Homo sapiens: one gene and its partners. The protein of the gene in region 1 interacts with the protein of each later gene in a biochemical or structural test. Each region holds a gene or a part of one and is shown on either strand. Other genes may lie near its edges. The genes, in order: MUL1, UBE2V2, UBXN7 and UBE2R2.

What was found.
Region 2: the proteins of MUL1 (region 1) and UBE2V2 form a complex in vitro, tested with the Homo sapiens proteins (one study listed by BioGRID).
Region 3: of the proteins of MUL1 (region 1) and UBXN7, one has a biochemical effect on the other in vitro, tested with the Homo sapiens proteins (one study listed by BioGRID).
Region 4: the proteins of MUL1 (region 1) and UBE2R2 form a complex in vitro, tested with the Homo sapiens proteins (one study listed by BioGRID).

What each region holds. Positions count from the first base shown.
Region 1 is NC_000001.11:20,498,948-20,505,151, forward strand, and holds the end of MUL1 (mitochondrial ubiquitin ligase activator of NFKB 1), read right to left. Parts: intron 4,363-6,204; coding exon 4,275-4,362; intron 3,243-4,274; coding exon 3,122-3,242; intron 2,473-3,121; coding exon 1,743-2,472; 3' UTR 501-1,742; downstream 1-500. UniProt on the Homo sapiens protein: Exhibits weak E3 ubiquitin-protein ligase activity. E3 ubiquitin ligases accept ubiquitin from an E2 ubiquitin-conjugating enzyme in the form of a thioester and then directly transfer the ubiquitin to targeted substrates.
Region 2 is NC_000008.11:48,002,890-48,011,934, reverse strand, and holds the start of UBE2V2 (ubiquitin-conjugating enzyme E2 variant 2), read right to left. Parts: upstream 3,505-9,045; 5' UTR 3,481-3,504; coding exon 3,465-3,480; intron 1-3,464. UniProt on the Homo sapiens protein: Has no ubiquitin ligase activity on its own. The UBE2V2/UBE2N heterodimer catalyzes the synthesis of non-canonical poly-ubiquitin chains that are linked through 'Lys-63'. This type of poly-ubiquitination does not lead to protein degradation by the proteasome.
Region 3 is NC_000003.12:196,346,538-196,353,011, forward strand, and holds the end of UBXN7 (UBX domain-containing protein 7), read right to left. Parts: 3' UTR 1,125-6,474; downstream 1-1,124. UniProt on the Homo sapiens protein: Ubiquitin-binding adapter that links a subset of NEDD8-associated cullin ring ligases (CRLs) to the segregase VCP/p97, to regulate turnover of their ubiquitination substrates.
Region 4 is NC_000009.12:33,896,641-33,904,848, reverse strand, and holds part of UBE2R2 (ubiquitin-conjugating enzyme E2 R2), read right to left. Parts: intron 4,676-8,208; coding exon 4,578-4,675; intron 1-4,577. UniProt on the Homo sapiens protein: E2 ubiquitin-conjugating enzyme that accepts ubiquitin from an E1 ubiquitin-activating protein, and catalyzes its covalent attachment to other proteins by an E3 ubiquitin-protein ligase complex.

The DNA of each region.
Region 1 (6,204 bases):
CAGTGAATGTACCCTCTGGGCCTACTTCCTCACCTGTACAGCACAGACACCGGGACTCGGCCTGCAGGGGTTTTGTGAGGATGAACTCACTCTGAAATGAGTTTGAAACAGCACACGGCACAGTACCTCATACACAGTATTGCTAAATGCTCATTTCCTCTCTGCTGTCCCCCAGCACCCCATCCCCATCCCATTCTCCCAGCAGGTGAAATCTCACTGCCCTGATTTGTAGGCTGTCGGGACAGACTTCAAAGATGGTCAGCAAGGCCAGATATGACCCACGGGTGGGCTGTCCAGATTCCTCCCCAGGGGGCAGGCATCCCGGCCGGCCTCTGCATCACCCCATCTGGGGGAGCCCCAAACCACTATAGCCGAGGAAAAGAACACAGAGGCCTCAAACTCCCCCACCTTTCACTCCATTGTGGCAGGGATTCAATCCCATCCTGGGGACACTTAGGCTTAGCCATTTAACTCCTGTTAACAAAGCAACAGGCTAGCACTTGGTTGCAACATGTTTAATTTCTGCTGTTCACACTGGACACTGCATCATACTAGTGTCGGCCCCTGAGGGCACCCCTTCCTCGCCTGCACAAAGGAGGACGAGAGATGAACATTCAGAGGCAGAAAAGGGCAATAAAAAAAGAGCTGTGTATGTGACCTCCAACTACTCAGAGGTGGGGGAAAACAGCCCCATCTGTCTTGCACTAAAAGGCTCACCAAGGGCAGGTGAGGGGCAAATGGTAATACTGGGAGGGGGTAACACAAGGAGAAGCGACATGAGTACACCAAGATGTCAAAGCTGCGACGGGCTGGATGAGGGAGCCCCAAGAGGGCATATGCTCAGGGTGCCAGCCGGCTGCTTTTCCTTGTGACAGCCTTGCAAGGAAGCTGTGAGGCCAGGACACTAGGCCAGTGGCATCCACACTGCGTCCTTCAGGAGGCGAGGCCTCTGCGCCTCATTCTCCAGGAGGGAAAACCAGGGACCACCCCGAGCTCTCCCAAGTGGCAGGAGTTCAAATCAGGGCCAGTGGCGAAACCAGGAGGCCTGCCTGACCAACTGCCCTTCACATGATCTCTCTTCAATCTGTTGCCCGGGGCCCCGACCATCTGGGCAGAAGCGGATGTGCTGACTTCACTTTCTTTTGTCCTCTACACACACGTGCAGGCGTTAAGGAGGCAAGCAGGTGAGGGGAAAGGAACACAAGTTGACCTGCCCAGCCTGACAATTCTGAAGAAAGACTGTTTCCCGGGGCATGAGGAAAAAGAAGAAAAGCTGCGGCAGAGTCTCTTCGGAGGCAGCACCCAAGGCATCCGTTGTACTCGGGGCCCAGCCTTTCCTCCCCTCTGAGTCCTCCACCAAGTCCACAGCAAGCAACGATTCACCAGAAAAAAACAGAAGACACAGGAACAGAAGAGCTGCTGATCACTGGCTTTGGTGCTTAAGTGATGAGGCATTTTCAGTCACACTCGCACTGATCTGGCTCCTGGGAGGAGACGCCACGGCATCCTCCCAGGGTGAGGCTCTGATGAGGCTGCACATGGACAGGGTCCCCTCTCAGGTGGGAAAGGCAGCATCCTGCCATTGGAGGCATGGGTCTGGAGAGTTTCTACCCAATTCCTCCCTCAATCATACCTGGAGGTGACAGCTACCCCCACCACTGCTCCTCCAAAGGCCTCGAGATAAAAATCCCTGAAAAGGGGGCAGGGGTGCTTCCAGGTCAAGCTGTGCGGCTTCCAAACTATTAGCTGTTGTACAGGGGTATCACCCGGGTGATCGCCTGTCTGCAGATAGGGCACTTCTTGGGCTCTGGCAAGGCGCGGTAGCACTCGGTGCAGGAACAAACGTGCCCACACTCCAGAAAGACGCAGGACTTGAAGCTGCTCAGACACACTACACAGGCGCTCTTCAGACTCTCCCTGTCCTCAGGCTTGGCTCGGCTCAGCAGCTGGGCCTCATGCTCCTGGAACTCCTCCTGCATCTGCTTGAGGCGCAGGCGCTCCTGCCGCTGCAGATACTGCTTCCGGAGAATGAAGAAGAGGGTGGCACATGTGGCAAAGCCAAAAACCAGCGCCAGCACCTTCCAGAGCCTGACGCTCGACTCCTGCCTCTGCAGCAGGCTGTCGAAGTCCTGGCTGCTTAGATAGTACTGCATGCCTTGTTTGGGCGGCTGCAGGCGGACAGAGTTGTTGTCCAGGACCAGTTCGCCAACCCCTGTGAGGGTGGCCCCCACCTTCAGCATCTCCTCGGTCTCTTGGATGCCTTTGGGCCGCTCACCGCTGATGTAGTGGCCGATGACATCGGTGAAGGACTGAATCGAGGGGTGGAACTTCTCATACACAGTCTCTAGACCCAGATCCACTGAGTCCAGGGGCTTCAGCACTCGCACAGCCACATCCACGCCATCCTCGTGGGGCACCAGGTCAAAGGGCACTGTGTTGGTCCTCTGATGAATGATCTTTGAGCAATCATTCCTAGAAGAATAAGAGAACTAAAGATACAGGGTAGCAAACAGCAAACACCCAGGCAGAACTGGAGATCAACTAAATGTGGAGGACAGCATATGGTCTGAAGTAACTGGAAGAAGACAGTAAGATCACTATCTCCAGTTGCCTCCTAACAAGGAGGCTCCATTTGTAGGTCCTGGGGCGATATCAGTGGGCAACAAATAACCGCCACAGACTATCATTTCCCTTTCCACTGTAAAACAAACATCTAAAACAAAACTCACTAGGACCAGTTGGAAAACTGATATTTCATATGATGGCACAAAAGCATTTTAGGAAATACTGAAATCACTGATTCAGTGGTTCTCAAACTTCAGTGTGCCTAACAACAGATTCCAGGTCCCTGATCCTGGAAATTCTGGTTGGATAAGTCACCAGGGACTGACTTATCCACTTCAGGGACTGAAGGGAGCTCAGAAATCTGCATTTCAACAAGATGCCTCGGTGATTCCGACATAGGAGGCCCACAGGCTACACACAAGAATATGACCTGCATTAAGAGACTGGGCTTCAACCTGTCTCAGGAGAAGCTGAAGTCACGGCAACAGCACCCAGGACCCCAGCATTTGAATAGACCAACTGCAAGGGTTTTGGCCAGTGGAGAAGTGATACATACCAAAGGTGGGTGGTTCGATTCCACACCATCTTGTGCTCCTGAAGTGTCAGCCGCTGAATTACCCCCTTGCAGTTTTCCACAAACTGGCTGTTAAGCGTTTCTTTAACAGACCGCACAGCTCCTAAGTGGACACAAATTCTATTATTTCTGAAGAAGTTTTCTGCCCTCTCCTTTCAGATAATTTAAAATGTGTTTTCTGGTCTGGCACAGTAGGTCACACCTATAATCCCAACACTTTGGGAAGCCAAGTCAGAAGGATCACTTGGGGCCACGAGTTTGAGACCAGCCTGGTTAACACAGTGAGATTCCATCTTTACAAAAAATTAAAAAGTTAGCAGGGTGTGGTGGCATGTGCCTGTAGTCCCAGATACTTGGGAGGCTGAGGCAGGAGAATCACTTGAGCTCAGGAGTTTGAGGCTGCAGTGAGCTATGATCACACCACCATACTACAGCTACCTGGGTGACAGAGCCAAGACTCTATTTGAGACGGAGTCTCACTCTGTTACCCAGGCTGGAGTACAGTGGTGCAATCTTGGCTCACTGCAACCTCCGCCTCCCGGGTTCAAGCAATTCTCCTGCCTCAGCCCCCCGAGTAGCTGGGATTACGGGTATGTGCCACCACATCCAGCTAATTTTTGTATTTTTAGTAGAGACGGGGTTTCATCATGTCGACCAGGCTGGTCTCAAACTCCTGAGCTCAAGTGATCAGCCCATCTCAGCCTCCCAAAGTGCTGGGATTACAGGCATGAGCTACCACACCTGGCCTCAAAAAAAAATTTTTTTTTTAATTTAAAAAATGTTAAAAATTAAGTGTTTTCAGTTGACTTTTGCTAATTCATCAAAACAATGACATTCTGATCACCATAAGTCACATTTTAGAAGCACTCTCCTAAGCACTTTGCATGGATCACATAATTTGTCTTATAACAACCCCATAAAGGTAAGTATTATTTTCGAGATCAGGCAACAGTGGTTCAGGGAGGTTTGGTAATCTTAGCGATCACAAAGCAATAACCCATGTCTTTCTGACCCCAAAGTATGTTCTGGACCATGGACCCAACACCACAAAAGGCTCTTCATATTAGCCAAGATGATCTTTATCAATCTTTTGGGAAAAAGACGTTGTTTTCCATTGACCAATAAGCAAACATACCTTCTATAACAGCATAAGGCACGCATTTTCCTGGAGCTTCTGAAAGAATACTCTTTAAATCTTCACCCAAATGAACTTTTTTAGCTCCCTAAATAAAAAAAAAAAATTAAATTAATTGGCCATTGAACACTGACATGCTCAATCAAACTTACAGGCAAAAAAAAGAAAAAGATTCTATTTTTTTCGTGTCAAGAGAATATGGAAATTGGACAGGAAGGTGACTACTGAGAATCAGATTTCAAAGCTGTGTACATCAACAGGAATGGAGCCATGCCTCTGCCTCTTCCATCACTGCAGAATGGGGGTGCCACATACATTCTTGTTCCAGTTAACCAAAACCTATACTCCTTTTCATGTTAAGACTTTTTAGTGAAAATATAAAAGGTACTAGTCAATTTACATACCACAGACTGAACATCATTCAATCTCTTCCTGACAACACAGAGCTATGATCCAAAGGGTTCAGGTATAAAGTACCTAACCTATCACCTAGCACATGGCAGTGGTTTGAGAACTGGTAGGTGTTATTATTAATATTACCACATCTTTACGAACCAATGCTCTGCATTGTATGTTATTAAAAAAACAAAGCAGGGGGAGTTGCCTTTGCTTCAACAGGAAGACTGTTAACTGGTGCCAAATGCCATTCTACATTTTTTTTTTTTTTTGAGATGGGGTCTCACTGTTATACCCAGACTGGAGTGCAGTAGTGCAATCATGGCTCACTGCAGCCTCAACCTCCCAGGCTCAAGTGATCCTCCCACCTCAGGCCCCCAAGTTGCTGAGGCCATAGGCATGCACCACCACACCTGTCTAATTTTTTTATTTTGCAGAGACAGGGTCTCCCAATGTTGCCCAGGCTGGTGTTGAGCTCCTGAGCTCAAGCGATCCTCCTGCCTCGGCCTCCCAAAGTGCTGGGATTACGGGTGTGAGCCACCGCACCCAGTCTGTTCTACTTTTTGCCTTTTTCATGCTCATAATTAAGTGAGCACGGTTCTTTCTGCTGCTGTCTTCCTCTAACAATCCCTAGTTCTCCTCTGCCTTCCAACTCAGAGCGTCCAACCCACTGCACTTGGGAAACCAATCCTGTTACTGCTGTTTCAAAAATAAGAGAAAAGGAATAAAATCAACAATCATTTCCTGAGCATCTTTGTGCCAGGCACTGTGCTGGGTGTCAGAGATTCAGGACGAATAAAGGACCATCTCTGCTTTCAGGGTATTCCCAAAAACAACTCTTAAGGATGCCAGATTCAGTAACCTCTAAAGAGGTGATGTGATACAAGATGTATATGAAGGTCACTCTGAGTTTAAGCTACTGCTACACAGTAAGTGACAGGAGCAAGGTCAATCAAAATTTCTTAGCCACTTACACTGTGAAGATACCAAAATGACAGCAATAACAACTAACAATTTACTCATTATCTGTCTCCCTCCACTAGAATGTTAAACTCTAGGAGGGCTTGGACACTGTTTGTCCTGTTCACTGCTATCCCCCTAGTGCGGAGAACTGTGCCTGACACACAGCAAGCATTTAATACATTATTTGATTAATAAATTAATGAATAAGTAAGCATTTAAATATACTATGTACCAGGCAATATGCTAGGCACTTTAAATGCATAAACCACTTAATGCCCACACCATCCCTTTACGGTAGACATTATTATCACCAATTACAGACAAGGAAACAGGCTCAGAGAGGTGAAGTGATTTGCCCAAAGTGAGACAGCTAGTAAAGTATCCACCACAGGATGGCCAATTCGAATTTTAAAGGGGGAAGAGGGAGAATATGATCAGAAAGATCTGGAGTTTAATCTAGCGCCAATGCATCCACTGTGACTTGGGACAACTTCATTTATCTGAGTCTCAGGTTCCAAAACCATAAAGGACAGGGAAAATGCAATTTCACAGGATTTTTATGTGGGTTAAA
Region 2 (9,045 bases), on another chromosome or scaffold:
GGCTCAAACCTGTAATCCTAACCTCAGGCCAGGGCAGGAGGGTCACTTGAGTCCAGGAGTTCAGACTACACTGGATAACATACGGAGACCCTGTCTCTACAAATAATTTAAAAATTAGCCAGGTGTGGCAATGCGTGCCTGTGTTCGCAGCTACTCGGGAGGCTGAGGTAGGAGGATCACCTGACCCCAGCAGGTCGAGGCTGCAGTGAGCCATGATCGCATGCCACTGCATTCCAACCTGGGCAACACAGCAAGACTCCGTCTCAAAAAGTCTCAGTCTAATTAAAAGTTTTTTCCTTCCAAAATTCTCTTCCAGTAGAAGGAAGGGTTAAAGGGGCTAAGGTATATGATGCACACTGAACTAAAGATCAAAACATATTTGTCAGGGTTTTTCTTTTTGGCCTCTTAAACAACTGTTATCGAGATACTTTGGCTTAAATAAAAAACACGTGTATTAGACCAAGCTCAGTGGTTTATGCCTGTAATCCCAGAACTTTGGGAGGCCGGAGCAGATGGATTACCTGAGGTTAGCAGTTTGAGACCAGCCTGGCCAACATGGTGAAACCCCATCTCTACTAGAAAAAATATATATACAATAAATTAGCTGGGCGTGGTGGTGCATGCCTGTAAACCCAGCTACTCAGAATGCTGAGGCAGGAGAATTGCTTAAACCCAGGAGGAAGAGGCTGCAGTCAGCCGAGATCGCACCATTGCACTCCAGCCTGAGCAACAAGGCGAGACTCCGTTTCAAACAAACACGTGCATTACATCGATGTAGCTCATCTAATTTTAAATTTTAAGCTGTATCATGCTGCTTTCACAAATACACAGGTACTATTTACTTCCCATGTTACCAAAAAGCAAACAAAAGTATAGCTAATAGTAAAATTAAAACTAATTAATAGGCTGGGCACTGTGGCTCACACCTGTAATCCCAGCACTTTGGGAGGCCAAGGTGGGCGGATTGCCTGGGGTCAGGAGTTTGAGACCAGTCTGGACAACATGATGAAAACCTGTCCCTACTAAAAAAAAAAAAAAAAATACAAAAAAAATATATATATACAAAAAAATTTGCTGGGCGTGGTGGCATGCACCTGTAATCCCAGCTACTCAAGAGGCTGAGGCAGAGGAATTGCTTGAACCAGGGAGGTGGAAGTTGCAGTGAGCCGAGATCATGCCCTTGCACTCCAGCCTGGGCAAAGAAGCGAGAGACTCAGTCTCAAAAAAAAAAAAAAACAAACAAACCCAGGCGCAGTGGCTCACACCTGTAATCCCAGCAATTTGGGAGGCCGGATCACGAGGTCAAGAGATCAAGACCATCCTGGCCAATATGGTGAAACCCCGTCTCTACTAAATATACAAAAAATTAGCTGGGCATGGTGGCACGCGCCTGTTGTCCCAGCTACTCAGGAGACTGAGGCAGGAGAATCGCTTGAGCCCGGGAGGCGGAGGTTGCAGTGAGCCGAGATCGCGCCACTGCACTCCAGCCTGGGTGACAGAGCAAGACTGCGTCTCAAAAAAAAAAAAAAAAAAAACTAGTAGATGGGAACGGTGGCTCACCCCTGTAATCCAGCACTTTGGGAGGCTGAGGCGGGTGGATCACCTGAGGTGAGGAGGGTGCAGTGAGCCAAGATCATGCCACTGCACTCCAGCCTGGGCAATGCAGCGAGACTCCATCTCAAAAAAAAAAAAAAAATACAGACTCCCTATGTACAATATGCTAATAATTTATCAGTAATCTTTATAATTTATATTCAACTTCCAAAACAACTAAAAGTGATTAACAAAAAGTATTTGCCATTAATATCATCTAACCTTTGGTCTTTTCAAAATATTAACATACACTCATGTATAGTGTTATGAAAAAATTGTGTTTAATAATGCAACCCACAAAAGGAAAATGAAAAGTATTAAATTAAAATGCATTATTTTATTACTAAATTTTCAAAAATCTATAAGAGGTCCTAAGCACAACTGTTATAAAGATATGGCCCCGTTAACGAGCACAGATTAGATTTCAGCAAGCACAGTAAAGTCATAACACTAAAATTCCACTTTTAAAACAATCCTTGCCTTACTAGCTAGCTGACCCAAGTATGTATACTACCCCAACACTAGAACTGCTAAAGATCTTAAAACCTATGACACCTATATGTAATAAAGATGTAAAAGACACCACTTAATTAAAATGTATGCAGAATGTATCCTGAGGTATTACTCTAAAGCAACAATTACAACATATATTCAAAGCCTTCCATTTCAGTACATATAGATTTGAAAATTCATTTTATTATGCAATGATGGCATAAACTATTAAATCACACTGCTCTATACTCTTGTTTCAACGAAGACTAGGAAAAGGCAGATCAGGCCGAGCGCGGTGGCTCACACCTGTAATTCCAGCACTCTGGGAGGCCGAAGTGGGCGGATCACCTGAGGTCAGGAGTTCGAGACCAGTCTGGCCAACATGACAAAACCCCGTCTCTACTAAAAATACAAAAATTAGCCGGGCCTGGTGGCACGCGCCTGTAATCCCAGCTACTTGGGAGGCTGAGGCAGGAGAATCACTTGAACCTGGGAGGTGGAGGTTGCAGTGAGCCGAGATCACACCACTGCATTCCAACTGGGCAACAGGGTGAGCCTCTGACTCAAAAAAAAAAAAAAAAAGAAAAGAAAAGAAAAAGGCAGATCACACGGGTTAACATTTTTAAATGTAAACTAAAGCTTAACGTTTTTAACATTTCTGAAATGGTCTAATGTCTAAAACCTCAACGTTAATACTTGTGTGCTCACAGGAAACCAAACATTGTATTCAGTAGGAAAGAGGAGTTGAACAGCTTATCTAAGAAACCACTTGTTCTTCAATTAGCTTTCATCTTGCTCTGGTCTTTTATTTTGTTTGCACTGCAGTTTTCCTCATAAATAATAAAAAGATCACACGTATTCAGTCAGGTAAGAAAGATCCTCTCGCTCTTATTTTAAGGAGCAATCGTCCTCTACTCCCCAACCCATGTCAAGGAGAGTCCAAAGGAATGGGACCCCTACTCTGATCCAGGACACCTCTTGGCCTGACCCATCTTCGGTGCCGGTTGGCCTGACCCATCTTCGGTGCCGGAGGTTGACACCCGCCCACCTTGGGCCTCCTCGCCTCCCTCCCGTAGAGCCTTCAGCCTACAACTCGGACCCGCGCCCGCCGGAACCTACGGGGGCGCCCGCGCGGGAGCCACCCCGCCCCCAGCCCGCCGGCGCGCGGCCGACGCGCGAGCACGACCCGCCAACCCGACGGCCGCCGGGGCCTCGGCGCCGGTCCCACCCGGTCCCAGGCTACGCTCTGCGGAGAGCGCGGCATTCGAGACAGCGCACTCGGGCTTCTCCCGCACGGTCAGCGCTCGGGCGCCAGCAGCAGACGGAGGGGCAGAGCCGGGTCGGAGCGGAAAATCACGCAGCCCGGCCCGGGAACCGACCTGTGGAGACCGCCATCTTCTCCTGCAGCCCGACGCAGCCGCCCGCACGCACGCACGAACCGTCGCGCGTCACTTCCGGGAGCGCGCCGCCCTGCACGCGTCACAGCGGACTCCGCCCCCGGCGGGCGCGGGGCGACCCGAGGGACAGCGCGCACGTGGGCCGAGGGGTCGCGGGGCCTCGCTGCTGTTTCCGCAATTCCCTTGTGAATCCCGCTCTCAAAATGAAACGCTAAAGAATAAGTTCATGAGGGCCGGGCGCGGTGGCTCACGTCTGTAATCCCAGCACTTTGGGAGGCCGAGGCGATCGGATCACCCGAGGTCAGGAGTTCGAAACCAGCCTGGCCAACATGGCGAAACCCCGTCTCTACTAAAAATACAAAAATTAGCCGGACGTGGTGGCGCGCGCCTGTAATCCCAGCTATTTGGGAGGCTGAGGCACGAGAATCGTTTGAACCGGGGAGGCGGAGGGGCAATGAGCCGCGATTGCGCCACTGCACTCCAGCCTGGACAACAGAGCGAGACTCCGCCTCAAAAAAATAAATAAAAATAAGTGGGCATTGACAGATTTGCGTTGATAAACGATTCAAAAGAGTTGGACAATAAATTTGAACAGCTAGGGATGCTGAGGTGGGAGGGTCACGTGAGCCCAAGAGGTGAGGCTGCAGTGAGCAGAAATCGCTGCACTCCAGCCTGGGCAACAGAGGGAGACTCCATTTCAAAAAAAAAAAAGAAAGAAAGAAAAAGGAAAGTAATACAGGCTGGGCGCCGAAGCTCACTTCTGTAATCCTAACACTTTGGGAGGCTGAGGCAGGAGGATGGCTTGAACCCAAGACTTTGAGACCAGCTTGGACAACATAGTGATACCTAGTCTCTACATAAAACTGAAAAAAAAAAAAAAAAAAGATTTTTCACATCCCTTGTAGGTTGTATTCCTAGGTATTTTTATTCTCTTTGTAGCAATTGTGAATGGGAGTTCACTCATGATTTGGCTCTCTGTTTGTCTGTTATTAGTGTATAGGAATGCTTGTGATTTTTGCACATTGATTTTGTATCCTGAGACTTTGCTGAAGTTGCTTGTCAGCTTAAGAAGATTTGGGGCTGAGACTATGGGGTTTTCTAAATATACAATCATGTCATCTGCAAACAGAGACAATTTGACTTCCTCTTTTCCTAATTGAATACCCTTTATTTCTTTCTCTTGCCTGATTGCCCTGGCCAGAACTTCCAATACTATGTTGAATAGGAGTGGTGAGAGAGGGCATCTTTGTCTTGTGCCGGCTTTCAAAGGGAATGCTTTTGGCCGGGCATGGATCCCAGCACTTTGGGAGGCGGAGGCGGGCGGATCACGAGGTCAGAAGATCAAGACCATCTTGGCTAACACAGTGAAACCCTGTCTCTACTAAAAAAAAAAAAATACAAAAAATTAGCCAGGCATGGTGGCAGGCCCCTGTAGTCCCAGCTACTCGGGAGGCTGAGGCAGGAGAATGGCGTGAACCCGGGAGTTGGAGCTTGCAGTGAACCGAGATGGCGACACTGCACTCCACCCCAGCCTAGGGGACAGAGCGAGACTCCATCTCAAAATAAAAAAAAATAAAAAATAAAAAGAATCCTTCATTCCAGTTTTCGCCCATTCAGTATGATATTGGCTGTGGGTTTGTCGTAAATAGCTCTTATTATTTTGAGATACATTCCATCAATGCCTAGTTTATTGAGAGTTTTTAGCATGAAGGGCTGTTGAATTTTGTCGAAGCCTTTTCTGCATCTATTGAGATAATCATGTGGTTTTTGTCATTGGTTCTGTTTATGTGATGGATTACATTTATTGATTTGCATATGTTGAAGCAGCCTTGCATCCCAGGGATGAAGCCGACTTGATCTTGGTGGATAAGCTTTTTTGATGTGCTGCTGGATTCGGTTTGCCAGTATTTTATTGAGTATTTTCGCATCAATGTTCATCAGGGGTATTGAGCCCACGTAGCCAAGGCAATCGTAAGCAAAAGGAACAAAGCTGGAGGCATCACACTACCTACCTGACTTCAAACTATACTGCGAGGCTACAGTAAAAAAAATTGCCTAGTACTGGTACCAAAACAGATATATAGATCAATGGAACAGAACAGAGGCCTCAGAAATAACTCCACATATCTACAACCATCTGATCTTTGACAAACCTGACAAAAACAAGCAATGGGGAAAGGATTCCTTATTTAATAAATGGTGTTGGGAAAACTGGGTAGCCATATGCAGAAAGCTGGAACTGGATCCCTTCCTTACACCTTATACAAAAATTAACTCAAGATGGATTAAAGACTTAAACGTAAGACCTAAAACCATAAAAACCCTAGAAGAAAACCTAGGCAATACCATTCAGGATGTAGGCATGGGCAAAGACTTCATGACTAAAACACCAAAAGCAATGGCAACAAAAGCCAAAATTGACAAATGGAATCTGATTAAACTAAAGAGCTTCTGCACAGCAAAAGAAACTACCATGAGAGTGAACAGGCAACCTATAGAATGGGAGAAAATTTTTGCAATCTATCCATCTGACAAAGGGCCAATATATAGAATCTACAAAGAACTTAAACAGATTTACAAGAAAAAAATAAGTCCATCAAAAAGTGGGCAAAGGATATGAACAGACACTTCTCAAATGAAGACATTTATGCAGCCAACAAACATGAAAAAAAGCTCATCATCACTGGTCATTAGGGAAATGCAAATCAAAACCACAATGAGCTACCATCTCACACCAGGTAGAATGGTGATCATTAAAAAGTCAGGAAACAACAGATGCTGGAGAGGATGTGGAGAAATAGGAATGCTTTTACACTGTTGGTGGGAGTATAAATTAGTTCAACCATTGTGGAAGACAGTGTGGCGATTCCTCAAGGATCTAGAACTAGAAATACCATTTGACCCAGCAATCCCATTACTGGGTATATACCCAAAGCATTATAAATCATTCTACTATAAAGACACATGCACATGTATATTTATTGTGGCACTGTTCACAATAGCAAAGACTTGGAACCAACCCAAATGGCCATCAGTGATAGACTGCATAAAGAAAATGTGGCAAATATACACCATGGAATACTATGCAGCCATAAATTAGGATGAGTTCATGTCCTTTGCAGGAACATGGATGATGCTGGAAACCGTCATTCTCAGCAAACTATCACAAGAACAGAAAACCAAACACCTCATGTTCTCACTTATAAGTGGGAGTTGAACAGTGAGAACACATGGACACAGGGAGGGGAACATCACACACTGGGGCCTGTCAGGGGTTGGGGGCTAGGGGAGGGATAGCATTAGGAGAAATACGTAATGTAGATGACAGGTTGATGGGTGTAGCAAACCACCATGGCACGTGTATACCTCTGTAACAAACCTGCATGTTCTGCCCCTGTTCCCCAGAATTTAAATTAAAAAAAAAAAAAAAGGAGAAAAAGTAGTTAAGAGAAAAAAAAAAAAGCTGGCATTCTGGTTCGTGCCTGTAGCCTCAACTACTCAGGAGGATGAGATGGGAGGATCACTTGAGCCAGGAGGTTAAGGCTTCAGTGAGTTATGATGGCACCACTGTAATACAGCCTGGGCAACAGAATGAGACACTGTCTTAAAAAAAAAAATGCAGGGGGCCAGGTGCGGTGGCTCACGCCTGTAATCCCAACACTTCAGGAGGCCAAGGCAGGTGGATCACAAGGTCGGGAATTCAATACCAGCCTGGCCAAAATGGTGAAACCCTCCCTCTACTAAAAATAGAAAAATTAGCCAGGTATGGTGGCGGCCACCTGTAATCCCAGCTACTTGGGAGGCTGAGGCAGAGAATTGCTTGAACCCAAGAGGCGGAGGTTGCAGTGAGCTGAGATCACACCACTGCACTCCAGCCTGGATGACAAGAGCGAGACTCTGCCTCAAAAAAAAAACAAAAAAACAAAACAAAAAAAAAAAACAGAAGAGGAAATAAAGAAGAATCATAATATACTATCCTTATCTACTCTCAAGCCACTGTAACTTGACAAGCCAAAATGAGACTGTTTTTCTCACAAAGGGACCTGACACAATAACCTAACTGAAATTTCTTACCAGTGCAGAGAAAAACTCTAATATTATCATCAAATTATTAAACTTTCCCCAAGTTTGTCTGCTGAGTTCTAGTGACCTCAGCATTATATACTTAGCAACAGCCTCTAGCTGACCTATCCTAAATATCAATATTTCTTAAACACCACATTTATTATGTCCTTACTGATTGAGAAAACCTGCATTTGCTTCCTTTTGCCTACCACCAGATTGGTAGTAAGTTTCATATTGATTGCCAGTAATGATTATCTGAAGAGCCATTTCTAAGACCATATCCAAGTTCAGCAGAAAAAAAGTCTTGTCATCCCATGTTGGTGTAACTACCATAGGTAGTTATAGCAGAAAATGGTCCATTTACCACCCTGGCCAAGGATGCCAAGCCCAAACACCACGGCCTGATTTTCACAACCTACCAGAACCCAGCCTCCACTGATACCTCCTGAATGATTTCCCATCTCTCTCCAGTGGATGCCCACACTCAGCCAAGCCGCCTCTCAGGTGCACTATTGCCACTGCCCTGGTTGTTTCTCCACCTGAGATACCACATCTCTCCTCCACCTTTCAACATCCTGTCCTCCCTTAAGGCCAAATTGAAATCCCACTTCTCTGAATCCTTTCCTGATTTATTTTTCTTGTCTTTTCATTAAACTGATCTGCTCTTTTAGTCTGTACTAAGAAGTTAGTACAGCAAAAAAACTAATATGTTCTCTCTGTAACATGAAAATCAGATCCATTTTAATCCACTTGACTTTTTAACCCTCAGAGTTGTGGGGCCTCAATAGCCAAGACATTCATGGACCCTCCCACTAGCAGGAAGCTCAGTACCTGCGATCAAAGCACACTCACACACATGCACACACAGAAAAACCCATTATGCGCCCTGGGAACATTGTTGCCTTGACATTTTCATGCTATCTCCCCTGTAATTTAAATTTGGAACTGGGCTTCTTTCTCCTGTTGAGGACAAAGTTCAACCACTTAAAGTGTTTGGTCTAAAGCTTACTCTTCTCCACTTTCATTATGTTTTCCCTGTTTACGGTGCCATCCAATTATGGAATCTGATGGTTAATTCCCAGTGCTCATCCCACTTGACCTGCCAGCAGCTTCTAGAGCAATCAACAATTCTGTTATCTGAGAACTAAATTCTCTCTTTTTTTTTTTTTTTTTTGTTTGAGACAGAGTCTTGCTCTGTCGCCCAGGCTGTAGTGCAGTGGCGCAATCTTGGCTCACTGCAACCTCCACCTCCCGAGTTCAAGCGATTCTCCTGCCTCAGCCTCCCAAGTAGCTGGGACTACAGGCATGCGCCACCATGCCCAGCTAATTTTTGTATTTTTAGCAGAGACGGGGTTTCACCATGTTGGCCAGGATGGTCTCAATCTCTTGACCTCATGATTCGCCTTCTTCGGCCTCCCAAAGTGCTGGGATTACAGGTGTCAGCCACTGCGCCTGGCCAATTCTCTCTTTCTTTTTTAACGACATGATATTTTGAAAT
Region 3 (6,474 bases), on another chromosome or scaffold:
AGAATCAGATCTGTTTTTCCATGTATGTTTATCGTCTGTTTCCAACTAGAAAGTAAGTTCCTTGAGGGCAGAGGCTGTATCTGTTTTGCTCCCCATCACATACATCCCTATTATTTGGCACATGAGGCTGGAGCATGGGGATGAGAAATGGTTCCACAAGAAAAGGGGGGGCACAAACCCATCACTGTAGAACTGTGAGCTAAGCAGCAGTCCCTTTTTTTTTTTTTTTTTTTTTTTTTTTGAGATGGAGTCACTCTGTCACCCAGGCTGGATGCTATCTCGGCTCACTGCACCCTCCACTTCCCAGGTTCAAGCAAGTCTCCTGCCTCAGCCTCCCGAGTAGATGGGATTATAGGCACTGCCACCACGCCCGGCTTTTTTCTTTTTTTTTTTTTTGAGACAGAGTTTCACTCTTGTCGCCCAGGCTGCAGTGCAGTGGCACGATCTCGGCTCACTGCAACCTCTGCCTCCTGGGTTCAAGCGATTCTCCTGTCTCAGCCTCCCAAGTAGCTGGGATTACAGGCGGCCGCCACCACACCCAGCTAATGTTTGTATTTTTAGTAGAGACGGGGTTTCACCATGTTGGCCAGGCTGGTCTCGAACTCCTGACCTCAGGTGATCCGCCCATCTCAGCCTCCCAAAGGGCTGGGATTACATGCATGAGCCACTGCATCCAGCAGCAATAACAATTTCTGTCATACCATATAATCGTATCTCCTTTTTGCCCATTAATTTAGTAATTATCTTTCCTTCAATTAAGCTAAGTCCTTAATTAACCATTAGTAATTACTGCTGGTCTGAAAGAACAGACACTGAATATTCGCCCAAGTATGTCAAACACAGAATCATACTTACCTAACAAGCCTAGCTTACCCAATGTTTCTGTAACAACTGGACTAATATTTACAGAGTGTTTACCATGAATGTTTGACATACCACAAAGAGCAGAAAAAAGGCTAGCAAACGTTACACATAACAACGGGACTACAAAGTAACCTTTGTCAATCAATAGTAACTGACCTAAATGAGAACGTGAGGGGGCAAGCTTTTGGAATCTCAATTGTATTACTGAAAGTAATATCCAGAGTCTTATCTTGTAAAAACAACAACACAAAAAAAACTAATACTGAAAAGTTTTTGTTTTTATTTCCAAGATCAAATATTACAACAGGACATTTACATGTATTTATAAAAAAATGCAGCAGTTGAATGTATAGATCAGAGGTTTCCTTGAGTTTGGTCCCTCTCTCAGCACAGTGAGCTGATGTCTTCAAAAGACTTATCGTCCCACTCCCTTCCCTCCCCCACCCCATTGTCCCCCCACCCTCCCCGTTTCAAGTTGCAGTATTAATATAAAGCAACTGGGTACAACACAGCAAGAGTATTCACAATTTGGTACAGACCAAACCAGAGGATCCCCAACTGACAGCAAGATCCTCCTTCTGGAAATTATTACCTATAGACTAGGTAGATCTATAGGTAGATCACACCCAGTTATCTAAGATTTCCCTGGTTTTAGAGCAAGTGGAAGTTCCATTGAGTCTTAGCCAGTAGTTACAACTCTGCGTTACCTAATGGCATGTTTTTCTCCTCTTACAAGTTTAATTTTCTACCGCCTCCATGTGTCTTCAAATTTAAGGCTTTCCCAAGCACCTTTATTATGACTTACTAGATATACAGGAGGGTCTCTAATGTGTCTTGAACAAAAAAATTTAGTGGATGGTCCAGCTGCCCCTTGCTCAACAATCCCAAAGACTTCTTCCCACCACTGAGAAGAGCTGCAGAAATCAACGGTATCTCCTAGCACCATTGGAGAAAAGGCCCAGAAAACAGAATTCGATGTGCATTTTAGGGAGCACTTGCCAGAAACATTACAACAGGAGCACTGTCTCTGTTATCTTCTTGGATTCAATCACAAATTTAGAGTACAGATGAAATTTAGAGCCTGTCCTGCATTAAGAATGCAAATCTCAGTAAGACCACCCCCACACACACTTTGTCCAGAATAAGTTGAGCCACAAACATCCCAGGGAATCTCTAAATACTGTTAGGAACTGCTTTAGAAAACACTTTAAAGCAAATACCCCAAGTTGACTTCACTCAAGCCCCCAACCCACCCTCATCATCCCTATCCCCCTAGAAATTTCATTCCTTGATTAACTTCTCTGAGTAAGATGTAAAGTGAGGTTTGGAAAATGACATGAAACATGAAACATGTTTAAAAACACAATCAATGAAGACATGCCAGAACTGGACATCCCAGGTGACTTCAAATGCATTGTTCAAGCCGAACTCATACAAAGCATGCACAGAGCCTGCACAGACACTGCTGAGAGTTTCCAGGGAACAATCAATACCTACTCGAAAAAGGACTTTCCTGAAGGGCAAACAAAACAAAACAAAACAAAACAAAACAAACAAAACAAAAAGTAACACTGGATGTTTAGAATTTGTTAACAACAACAACAACAAAAAACCATTCTGGAAAAAAAGATTATCAGAGGAGTGAAGAAAACCGTGTCTAACAGATTCATGCCAAAGCTTGGATGGAAGCCCCTCAAAGTCTAAGTATCGTGTTAGCATCAACTGGTACTCATTTCTCTATATCTAAGACTAGAAGATTCTCTCACAGCTTTACTGTTTCCTGGCAAGTGTTTTCAACAGCCTTTCCAGCTGAAGGGACGAACCCAGGAAAGTAACAAGGCCCAAGACCCCACATGGGTCAGATAAGCAGCCCCTACTAGAAGCTTGCTACTCGTTAACTGAAAAGTGGAGGCCACGCACTACTTTCACTCTCTCTAGCAGGTGAAAGGGGATTTTCTGATGGCAACAGTCACTCCGTGTAAGGTTTAACTTACAGGGCAATAAGTTATCAAAAAGTTATTGTTAAAAGCATATGATTAGTGTCATAAACATATTTATATTTGGAATTACACCATTTGATATCTCCATTAAGAATGCAAAGCTTTGAGAAAAGCATACTGTAAAATCATGTTGCTGCAAACAGCAAGGCATCCAGCTGAGTGTAAGCAGTCTAATGTCATCAAACTGAAATGGACCCTCGTGACGGGCACTATGGAACCAGCTACCTAGATAGAGAGAAAAAAGGAGAATGGCAGGGAACGGTTCCAGATCAAGAATCTCTCCCTTATCAGTTAAGAGTTCCATACTGAGTCTATGAAAAAAGCAAATTAAAAAGATTTTAAGAAAGGGGGAATTCAATTCCAGGTCAGAATTTATCTAATGATTTGATATGTTTCCCATTTATCATGTCTAAAAAATGAATGACTCATGCTAACCCAGTTAGATTAATAACTTCTTTTGATGAGAAAAAATATTACTTAGGTTTAGTCCAGCTTAGCTTGACTATTCTTCCCATTTGAAAACCCAAATGACCTTTAGAAGGGATATAAAATACCCAGAGTATTGTGATCTCTAGAGAGGAAATACAATTAAACAATAAAAACTTGCTGTTTGTTGCCAAAGAATTAAGTACAATAATGCGACTTCTCATATTTATAGATTAATCTGTGATTGCTCTTGGGAAAAATACTATCATTGGTATTTGCCATCTCTAATCCTAGAAATAAATCTGGTTATCTTTTGAAAATACTTTCTCATTACAGGAATGCTAAATTATGTTTATTAAAGTAGTTCAAATTGGATTGCCCAACTTTATTTTGAAATCAATAGCAAAGAAAGGCCTGTGCCAAAAATCATCATGTTTATGAGAATATCTGCAATTTTAAGCAACACAACAGCAACTGGTAGGCCACAAAGAGGGTGGGGTATCACAGAGCTAGCCATTCTCTATATGAAACCAGAGAATTCTCCTTAACTAGGGAGAAAATGAGCTATAAAAGTAAGTTTGCCTCAAAAATGTCCTTCAATTTTATAAAAAATGAAGATTGTTACATATTAAGACTTTGAAATGGAATTTCTTAAACATAGCCAATTACACTAAAAATCATAACTATTTTCAGAGAATGAATGTTAAAAATAAATGGTGGAGAAGTAAAATGGAAAGCAGGATTAAAAGATTTCTAATTAAGGGTCTGTCACTTCACAGGACAACTAGCAAGGCCATTATAATCTCTATTTTTAAAAAGACATCAAGAAATTCTTGATTCTATACTGTCTCTCTAGCAGGACTGACACACAGGTGAGTCAAAAACCATAACCATCACTGAAATACCAAATCTCTATGTAACAGGAGAAACCGATATATTGGTATGGTATTCTCTGTTGGGTTATCTGCAGTTCTAAAGAACATTCTTGCCACTATTCTAAAATGTGTACAGTGCAACACCATGTTTCACGGCAAGACAATAACTGAAAAGCTAAGCCAGGCAATCCAGTGAAGTTGAATGTCCATAGTACACAGCTGTCTTTAGCCTATTCATCAAGGCTGGTATTACCGGAAAACTGCCATGTTCACCAGAAGAGCTGTCTCTTCCTATGCTCATTACATTTTAGTTTTACAAAGACTACTAATTCATCAGCCTGCACCCCATGATTTACTACTGCGTAGTTACATGATGGTCAAAAAAGGCAGAGAGACGGTAAGAATGACATAATAAAGATACATTCTGTGGAATAAAAAACATTTTTAAGTCAGCCTAATTGTATCTTTAAAAAGCTGTTTCTGCCAAAACCAGGTGTGAATCTTATACAAATCAATTTCCCAACAGGCCAGTAAAGTACTTTAAGTACACAAGTAAAAATAAAATTTAGTGCCAGCGTTAGTGTCATATTTGGTTCTCATTTACATTTTAGTCATACTCAACACTGATTAGGCACACAGCATTAAGTTTTAAAAAATAATGAATTGTTTACAAGATTATTATTACTAGACCTATAACTACTATACTCTCCTCTTTGGAGATTTCAGTCATCGCAGTAAGATTAAGAGCAAGTTGTTGGTCAAATGATACCTGAACACAGAATAAAAAAAAGAGAGAAAAAAAAAGTAAAGAAACTGATTAACCAGCACACTTTTAATTAGCCTAGGGATAATACGCAATCACGGGGAGAGACTGGAAGCATGAAATTTTGGAAAAGGACTTCAGAGATAATCTAATTTGTTGTTCTAGAAAAGGCTGAGAACTATTAATCTAGTCCAATTATCTCATTTTTCAGACGAGAAACCAGAGATTAAGAAGAAAGAGAAGTGTGAAGGTAACAACTAGCAGAGCTGTTACCCAAAGGGCTCTCACACCTCCAGTGCCCTTTCTGCATATAACATATACTATACTATGCATTGGATTTGTACCTGGGTAGAGAAATTAAATCTTTCCTTCATTTTTCGGTTGCTAGTGGCTCCCTCTGGTATTTTCCCTAAGTGTGCAAGTAAGATTCCTGCGAGCTAGGAATCTTTACTCCGGGGGATCAATAGTGAGATCCCCGCAAGCTAGGAATCTTTACTCCAGGGATCAATAATCCTTTCCTACTTGGGTACTGGTTATGCCTTAGTGGCAGAACTTCATGCCCCAAATCTAGAAGTTACAAAAGGTGGAGCTAAAGAAAAAGGTGAGTCAAAAGAAAACGTGAGCTACAGTGCTTGCCACTTCAGTCTTGTTTAAGACTTTGCTAACTAAAACATATTCTTCCCTTTTTCTAAGTTTGAACTAATAGGTAAACATTTACATGCTCTCCAATTATTTCATGTGTAGTGTGTCTCTCTAACTGGATAAAACAGGCAGGAATCATATCTTATTTATTATTTTTTGAGACAGAGTCTCGCTCCATTGCCCAGGATGGAGTGCAGTGGTGTGATCTCGGCTCACTGCAACCTCCGCCTCCCAGGTTCAAGAGATTCTTGTGCCTCAGCCTCCCCATTAGCTGGGATTACAGACAGCCACCATGCCTGGCTAATTTTTGTATTTTTCAGTAGAGATGGGGTTTCACCATGTTGGCCAGGCTGATCTCGAACTCCCAACCTCAGGTGATCCACCCACCTCGGCCTCCCAAAATATTGGGATTACAGGCATGAGCCACCACACCTGGCCAGGAATTAGATCTCAGATTTCAAAATACTTCCAACTTCTATAAAGAACTCAATAGCTAATTGTTGACTTGTAAGTCAAGGAAGTAGAATTATATACAAGATTTAAAAACATACACACAGAGGGTTCAATAATCTGGTATGGATGGGACACAGAAAACAGAATTGTAGATCGGGCGCAGTGGCTCATGCCTGTAATCCCAGCACTTTAGGAGGCCGAGGTGGGCGGAACACGAGATCAAGAGATCGAGACCATCCTGGCCAACATGGTGAAACCCTGTCTCTACTAAAAATGCAAAAATTAGCCGGGCGTGGTGGCGCTCACCTATTAAAAAAGGTAATTGTATCTTTTCTGAAAAATGTTTAAAAAAAGAAAAAATTGTTTTTTTACCCTTTTCATTTATTCTTGGCAAATAATGCCACGTGGCAATTTTACTTTCACATCTTCACCAGTGCATCATTTTAAAAAA
Region 4 (8,208 bases), on another chromosome or scaffold:
CCAATTCAGGAAGAAACTCTCCCCACCACCTCCAGCCCCACCAATTTAATCCTGGGCCTCTGGGAGGAGGAGGCCTGTGGATGTTTTCTTTCAAAAGAAGTATGCTGGTTTTCCCAAGAGGTAGCAAGCTACCGAGCCTTTAGTGAACACCAGTTGGCTGATTCTCTGCATCCCTAAAATTCTTCCTTTTCAGGTTGGCTAACTCTCACTACTCACCAGATCTGATAATACAGACTGACTTAGACTCTTGAAGGTAACTGGAGTCCCTTATTCTTCAAGTTACAAAAGTGCTCCATTTGCCACTTTATGTTATAAATATGTCCATTGAGGTGCTGAACAATAGTCTTGAGTACACGTGGTTATGGAGAAGAAAACCAAATACGTGAATATGGAATCACTTTCAGATGCCAGTGAGAGGCAGCAGATAAGACTCCAAAACAGGATGAGATGAACCCTATGCCATCTCCACTGCTGTCTTACTACAGCCACCCATAAACTGGACATGGAGCCCAGAACCCTTAGACAGTTGCTGGCCCTAGATAATTTAGCAGCAGAGAGGTACAAGAAGGAAAATAGTTGCCCATTTCCACTACATCTTGTATCTTCCCTCTTAATATTTCAGTGCCATAAATGACCTGTTAGAAAATATAACAGTTTACTACTTTAAAACCTCCCTTGTCTCACAACCAAGTGAACACAGAAACAAAAGGGATAAGCGAAAGTATTCCACATCTGCTCATTAGGTAGTGCTTTCCTGACTTCCGCTCAGAGTTCTGAGCACCACCAGGTATTCCAGACAGGTGAGGTTCCAAAAAGTGTACAAAACATCCCACAGCCCCCGAAAACACCAATAAGATCAAAATGTTGAAGGACTACCCAATGATTACATAGAACTAAGTGATAAAAAGTCTAAGAAGGTAAACAATTTCCAACCCAAATACCTTGTAGAGCTGTGTGAAGATGTTAGGTGTAACTCCACATAACTAGTTGTAGTTGGGAAGCTTCTAAACAAAGCAGCATAAAAGCAGGGAAAACAATCTTGATTTGAGTATGGGGAATGTCCCTAAATTGTGGCTCAGGTGGCCTGGGGACTCAAGTGTGAGGAAACAAAATGATGCTAGTACCCAAAGTAACAAAGGCAGTTTCAGATGGGCAGATAAGTATAAAAGGAATCCTCTGCCTCCAAAAGACTGGATTACATGAGAAGTAGGCCTATTTTAAAAGAAAAAATGTTCATAATACTTTAAGCTGAGATAAGGCAAATGACATCATTTGCGTGTAAATGCAAGAGAAGTAAAGGATAAAAAGCCTGAATTCCCATGGGTGGTGGCAATACATTATCCAGCCAAGCAGCATAAAAATGCAATGAGGAAAATCTTGTTTGGGGCTTTGTATTTGAGGAAAGGGGAAGCTTATTTTCTCAAATAGGGAGAGGGTGTAAGCATTTGATTCAACGTTCAACCAGCAAAACCAAGAATCACCAGTATTATAGCTACCACTTCCTCTAATCTAGGGTTATTACTCGTCCTGAAAATCCATGCACCAGAATCATTATTAAAGTACAACTGGGGATTTTTTTGGATGCAATTTTTTCAACAAATCATCCAAAATATTTTTTAAAAACTTTTATACACATTGTCTAATTATAATGTCAAAATAATGTGCTACAATTACTTCTGAAGACGTAGCACCCTCAAACATACTCTTGAGTAATATAGAATACATAAAACTCAGACTTTTTTTTTTTTTGAGACAGCGTTTCACTCTTGTTGCCCAGGCTGGAGTGCAGTGGCACGATCCTGGCTCACCGCAACCTCCGCCTCCCAGGTTCAAGCAATTCTCCTGCCTCAGCCTCCCGAGTAGCTGGGATTACAGGCAGGTGCCACCATGCCCAGCTAATTTTGTATTTTTAGTAGAGACAGGGTTTCTTCATGTTGGTCAGGCTAGTCTTGAACTCCCGACCTCAGGTGATCTGCCCACCTTGGCCTCCCAAAGTGCTGGGATTACAGGCGTGAGCCACTGCGCCCGGCCTACAACTCAGAATTTTTAATACTAATTTAAAATTGAGTCTATCGAGATAATTCATGTATACATAATTTGCTACGTAGGACACTTTTCCCCTCAAAAAAAGAAAGCGTATTCTCAATTACAGAATATCTCAAAAACAGCTCAAAACAATTATTTTAGTTCTTTTCATGTATTTAGAACCCAAGATAAATTATGTACTACTTGAACTGGTTACGATACAGGCATCTAGCAATTATGTCTCCCTGTAGCAAAATGAAATAAATATGAGGAACTAAGAAATGTGTTTCTCTTCTAATAGATAGCAAATGACTGCTTCACATTAGACCCAAAAAATTCCTTGAAAATAATAGCTGCAACCCAAGCCAGCCAGGTAATATCCACCATTCTAGTAGGTTTACATGCATTATTCACTTAAATTCTATCAACAACCTACTGAGGTAGGTATTATTCTTGTATAGATAAGAGATTCAGAAGGCGGGTGTAGTGTGAGCACCTGTAATCCCAACACTTTGGGAGGCTGAGGCAGGGGCATCACTTGAGCCCATGGGTTTCAGACCAGCCTGGGCAACATGGTGAGACCCCATCTTTACAAAAAACTTAAAAATTAGTCCAGGTGCTTTGGGGCACACCTATAATCTGAGCATTCTGGGAGGCCAAGTGGATTGCTTGAGCCCAGTAGTTTGAGACTGGCCTGGGAAACAAAGCAAAACCCCATCTCTCTACAAAAAAAATACAAAATCTTGAGCAGACACCGTGATGCATGCCTGTGGTCCCAGCTACCCAAGAGACTAAAGTGGAAGGATTGCTCAAGCCCGGGAGGTTGAGGCTGTGCTGAGCCGTGACCGCGCCGCTTCATTCCAGCCTGGGCGACAGAGCAAGATCCTGTCTTAAAAAAAAAAAAAAAAAAAGAAATATGAGAAAAAAACATTCAGAGGGATGATGGTTGTCAAGGTGAGGTGTAAAAACACATTTATTTGAATTTAGAAAGAAAGTAACATTTTTTGTCTTAAAAAATATATTGGTAAGATATGCTGAAATCTTTAATATATCTATTTTCTCAACTCTTTCTAAATAAATTGGATGGAACAAGGTACCCAAAGGAATGAGTAACAAACATAATCAACAGTCATTTGACACATCTTGAAGAGCTTCTATTACAAGTCAGGAAGCTTCCAATTCTTCACTTTTGATAAACCTGGAGATTCTAATCAAGTTATTAGTTTTTGTATCAGTAAAAATGTTTAACAAATGATTGAATAAACAAATAAAGGGGAAGAATAGATCAATCCATGCAGAAGAATTCAAAATAATTTATATAGATACCCTGGCTTCAAGGAGGTATAGCCACCCTCTCCTTAGTTGTGGGCTATGCATATTCCTTCCAAGGAGTACAGAATGAAAAGTTCAGGAAAGAGCAACTTTACAGTGGAGAAAAGCTAAAAATATTATTTCAGGCAGGTGATGAAAGGTATCCCATCAACAGGGATAAGCCACACTGATAGTAAATACTTCAGATATGACATAATGAAAATGGCACATTACTTCTCTGGTCTTTCTCTCCCAAACCTATAACCCTAGACTAATCATGAGAAAACACATAAGAAAAATCTCAACTGGGGGACATTGCACAAAATACCTGATCAGTACCCCCCAAAATTGTCATCAAAAACAAGAAAATTTATAATCAAGAGTTGCTTAATAGCTAGGTATGGTGGCATACACCTATAGTCACAGCTACTTGGGAGGCTGAGGTGAAAGGCTCACTTGAGCCCAGGAGGTCGAGGCTGCAGTGACCTGTGATCACACCGCTGCACACCAGTCTGGGTGACGGGAAGACACTGTCTCAAAGACAAGAGACAGAGACACAGACAGAAACAGAGAGAGAGAGAGAGACAGAGACAGAGAGAGAGAGGAGTTGCCCATGAAGACATGACTATTAAATATAATGTGATGAGCAGGGCACAGTGGCTCATGCCTATAATCCCAGCGCTTTGGGAGGCCAAGTGGGGAGGACTGCTTGAGGCCAGGAGTTTGAGACCAGCTGGGCAACTTAGTGAGACCCCATCTCTACAAAAAATTTAAATACATATATGTATACACGTACATATATAGATATATATTTATATGTATGAAATATTTTGGAGCAAAACAACGACAGGTAAAAACAAAGGAAATGTGAAAGCGTATGGACTTCAGTTACTTATAATGAATTAACATTGTTTATTAACTGCAACCAATGAATGACACTAATGTTAGGTGGTAATAAAGAACCAGAGTAGAACTAGGATAAGTTAAGAGTAGGGATTCAGGCTTGAAAATCTATTCCTAAGTGAACATAGGGAAATGAGAATCATATACATTATTGTTTAGTAAATACAGCTCTTCAAAATGACGCATACATATTTCTTAAAGCTCTAGCTAAAGACAAAGAAACTGAATATAAGAAAGATGATTTTTTACATGTTAAAAGACAATACATAATTTTATTTTACTAGGAGCAAAGACAATAAGGAGATTAAGAATAACTCCAAAACCAGATTCCTCCTTACCTCACATTCTGAGTAGGATTCCACCTTTCAGAAGGCAGTTCTCCACTCTGTGGGTCATCTACAGGCGGATGAAGAATCGAAATGCATACATCTCCATTCTACAAGACACAAACATTACATTCAGTAAATACTCAAAAAGTGATGTACAAAAAGGGACATCGGTTCTAAAGTTTCCTTTATTCCTAGAAACTGTTTCTTCATCAAAGGAGAAAACAATTCTGCTTTTTATGTTCAACATCAAAGATAAATAATAATTAAGCATTTTAAAAGTATTTATTTTGACCAATCTCCAAGGTATATTTTCTAGTGAGAAGACTTACTATTCCTATAGAACAATCCTGATGAAACAAACGATCCCTATGTTTACTTAGGAACATTAAAATATAATATTTATTTCGACCAATCTCCAAGGTATATTTTCTAGTGAGAAGACTTACTATTCCTATAGTACAATCCTGATAAAAAATTGACTGGGGCTGGGCGCGGTGTCTCACGCCTGTAATCCTAGCACTTGGGAGGCCAAGGCGGGTGGACCACCTGAGGTCAGGAGTTTGAGACCAGCATGGCGAAACCCCATCTCTACCAAAAATACAAAAATTGGCTGGGCGCGGTGGCTCACGCCTGTAATCCCAGCACTTTGGGAGACCAAGGTGGGCAGATCACAAGGTCAGGAGTTCGAGACCAGCCTGAACAACATGGTGAAACCCCGTCTCTACTAAAAATACAAAAATTAGCCGGGCGTGGTAGCACTCCCCTGTAATCCCAGCTACTCAGGAGGCTGGGGCAGGAGAATCGCTTGAACCTGGGAGGTGGGGGTTGCAGGGAGCCAAGATCGCGCCAATGCACTCCATCCTGGGCAACAGAGGGAGACTCCGTCTCAAAAAAACAAAAACAAAAGACAAAAATTAGCCGGGCGTGGTGGCACGCGCCTGTAATCCCAGCTACTCAGGAGGCTGAGGCAGGAGAATCGCTTGAACCCGGGAGGCGGAGGTTGCAGTGAGCCAAGATAGTGCTCCGGCCTGGGCAACACAATGAGACTCCATCTTAAAAAAAAAAAGACAAACATAATAAATCAAGACTCAATTGTCTTAGAAGCAGCCAAATATATATCCCTTTGTTTTCAGATATATCTGTGTACCTAGAGTACATAAAAAGGAAGAAAAAATATCTAACCTTGCTTAATATCTACTCAGATAGATGCTATGTCAATAACCATGACTTATATAAACCAAAAATATGCCTCGCAGCAAATGTTAACATCCTCAAGGTATGGTTAGAATGACTTCCCACTATGGCTATTATATTTTGCTTCATAAACTTAACACAACTTAATCCACAAGTACATTTAGGTTAATTCATACACATATGGATTGCCCACCATGTGCAATACAGAACACAATTCAATAGAAAAGATAAAGTTAGGTAAAATACAGTGACTTATCTCTTGGACTTAGCCTAACATGGAAGGTAAGATTTATTTATTTATTTAACTTCTTTCTGTCTTTAGAGATGGGAGTCTCACTATGTTACCTAGGCTGTAGTGCAGTGATTATGCATAAGACAACCATGGTGCACTGCAGCCACTAACTCCTGGCCTCAAGTGATCCTCACACCTCAGTAGTCCCATAGCTGGGACTCTAGGGTGTGCTACCACACACGACTTAAGATTTATATTTTTAAAAAACTGGAGGTATAACTATATAAAGTGCAAAAATCTTACATATACAACCCAAATTTAGACACATAGAAACTATATGAATATATATGTAACCATTATCAATATAAAATATTTTTAAAATAAAATTAATACAAAATATTATATTCTAACACACTGCCTTATGGTTAGATACCATAAGGCATGTAAAAAGTTACTACAGATAAAAGAAGAGAGAGGCCAGGCATGGTGGCTCACATCTGTAATCCCAGCACTTTGGGAGGCTGAGGCAGGCAGAGCACAAGGTCAAGAGTTTAAGACCAGCCTGGCCAGTATGATGAAACCCCATCTCTACTAAAAATACAAAAATTAACTGGGCGTGGTGGCACCTGTAATCGCAGCTACTCAGGAGGCTGAGGCAGGAGAATCCCTTGAACCCGGGAGGCAGAGGTTACAGTGAGCTGAGATCACGCCACTGCACTCCAGCCTGGGCGGCAGAGCGAGACTCCATCTCAAAACAAAAACAAAAAACAAAAAGAAGAGAGCCGGGCGTGGTGGCTCACGCCTGTAACCTCAGCACTTTGGGAAGCCAAGGCGGGCAGATCACCTGAGGTCAGGAGTTCGAGACCAGCCTGACTAACATGGAGAAAACCCATCTCTACTAAAAATACAAAATTAGCCAGGCGTGGTGGTGCATGCCTGTAATCCTAGCTACTCGAGAGGCTGAGGCAGGAGAATCACTTGAACCTGGGAGGTGGAGGTTGTGGTGAACCGAGATTGTGCCATTGCACTCCAGCTTGGGCAACAAGACCAAAACTCCATCTCAAAAAAAAAAAAAAAAAGAAAAAAGAAAAGAGAAACTTGGTATATTTGGGCAGTGAATGCGTGGGAGGTGGGGTGGAAGATAAAAGGCTTTGTTGTTGAGGAAGCTTTGAGATGAGCTTTCCTTTAATAATAACAATTTAAACAACCTATGGGAAATGTAGAAATGAGTTTTTCTGGCCAGGTGCAGTGGCTCACGCCTGTAATCCCAGCACTTTGGGAGGCCGAGGCAGGCAGATCACTTGAGGTCAGGAGTTCGAGACCAGCCTGACCAATATGATGAAACCCCATCTCTACTAAAAATACAAAAATTAGCCGGGCGTGGTGGCACGCACCTGTAATCCCAGCTACTCGGGAGGCTGAGACAGGAGAATCACTTGAACCCGGGAGGCGGAGGTTGCGGTGAGCCGAGATCACACCATTGTACTCCAGCCTGGGCAACAAAAGCGAAACTCTTGTCTCCAAAAAAAAAAAAGAGTTTTTCTGAATCCCAGCACTTTGGGAGGCCGAGGCCAGCGGATCACGAGGTCAGGAGATTGAGACCATCCTGGCTAACATGGTGAAACCCCGTCTCTACTAAAAATACAAAAAATTAGCCGGGCGTGGTGGCAGACGCCTGTAGTCCCAGCTACTCAGGAGGCTGAGGCAAGAGAATGGCGTGAACCCAGGAGGCGGAGCTTGCAGTGAGCTGAGATCGCGCCACTGCACTCCAGCCTGGGCAACAGAGCGAGACTCCGTCTCAAAAAAAAAAAAAAAAAAAAAAAAAAAAAATTAGGCCACAGAAGTATGCTACTTGGTTCAGAGCGTAATATATATTAAAAAAACAAACAACAAAAAAAAAACACAAAAAACACAACCTTCTTAGTAGTGGAATGAACTCAACAGATTTGCATTTCAAAATGACATATTAGAAAATAGGCATCCAAATTGACACAGACAATGGATTTGACAAAATCTAACACTCTTTCATGATAAAAACAATCAGAAAGCTATGAATAGATGGGAATTATCTTAACATGATAAAGGGCATTTATTAAAAACCCTCAGTTGCTAGGCACGGTGGCTCACGCCTGTAACCCCAGGACTTTGGAAGGCCAAGGCGGGCAGATCACCAGGTCAGGAGATCAAGACCATCCTGGCTAACACGGTGAAACC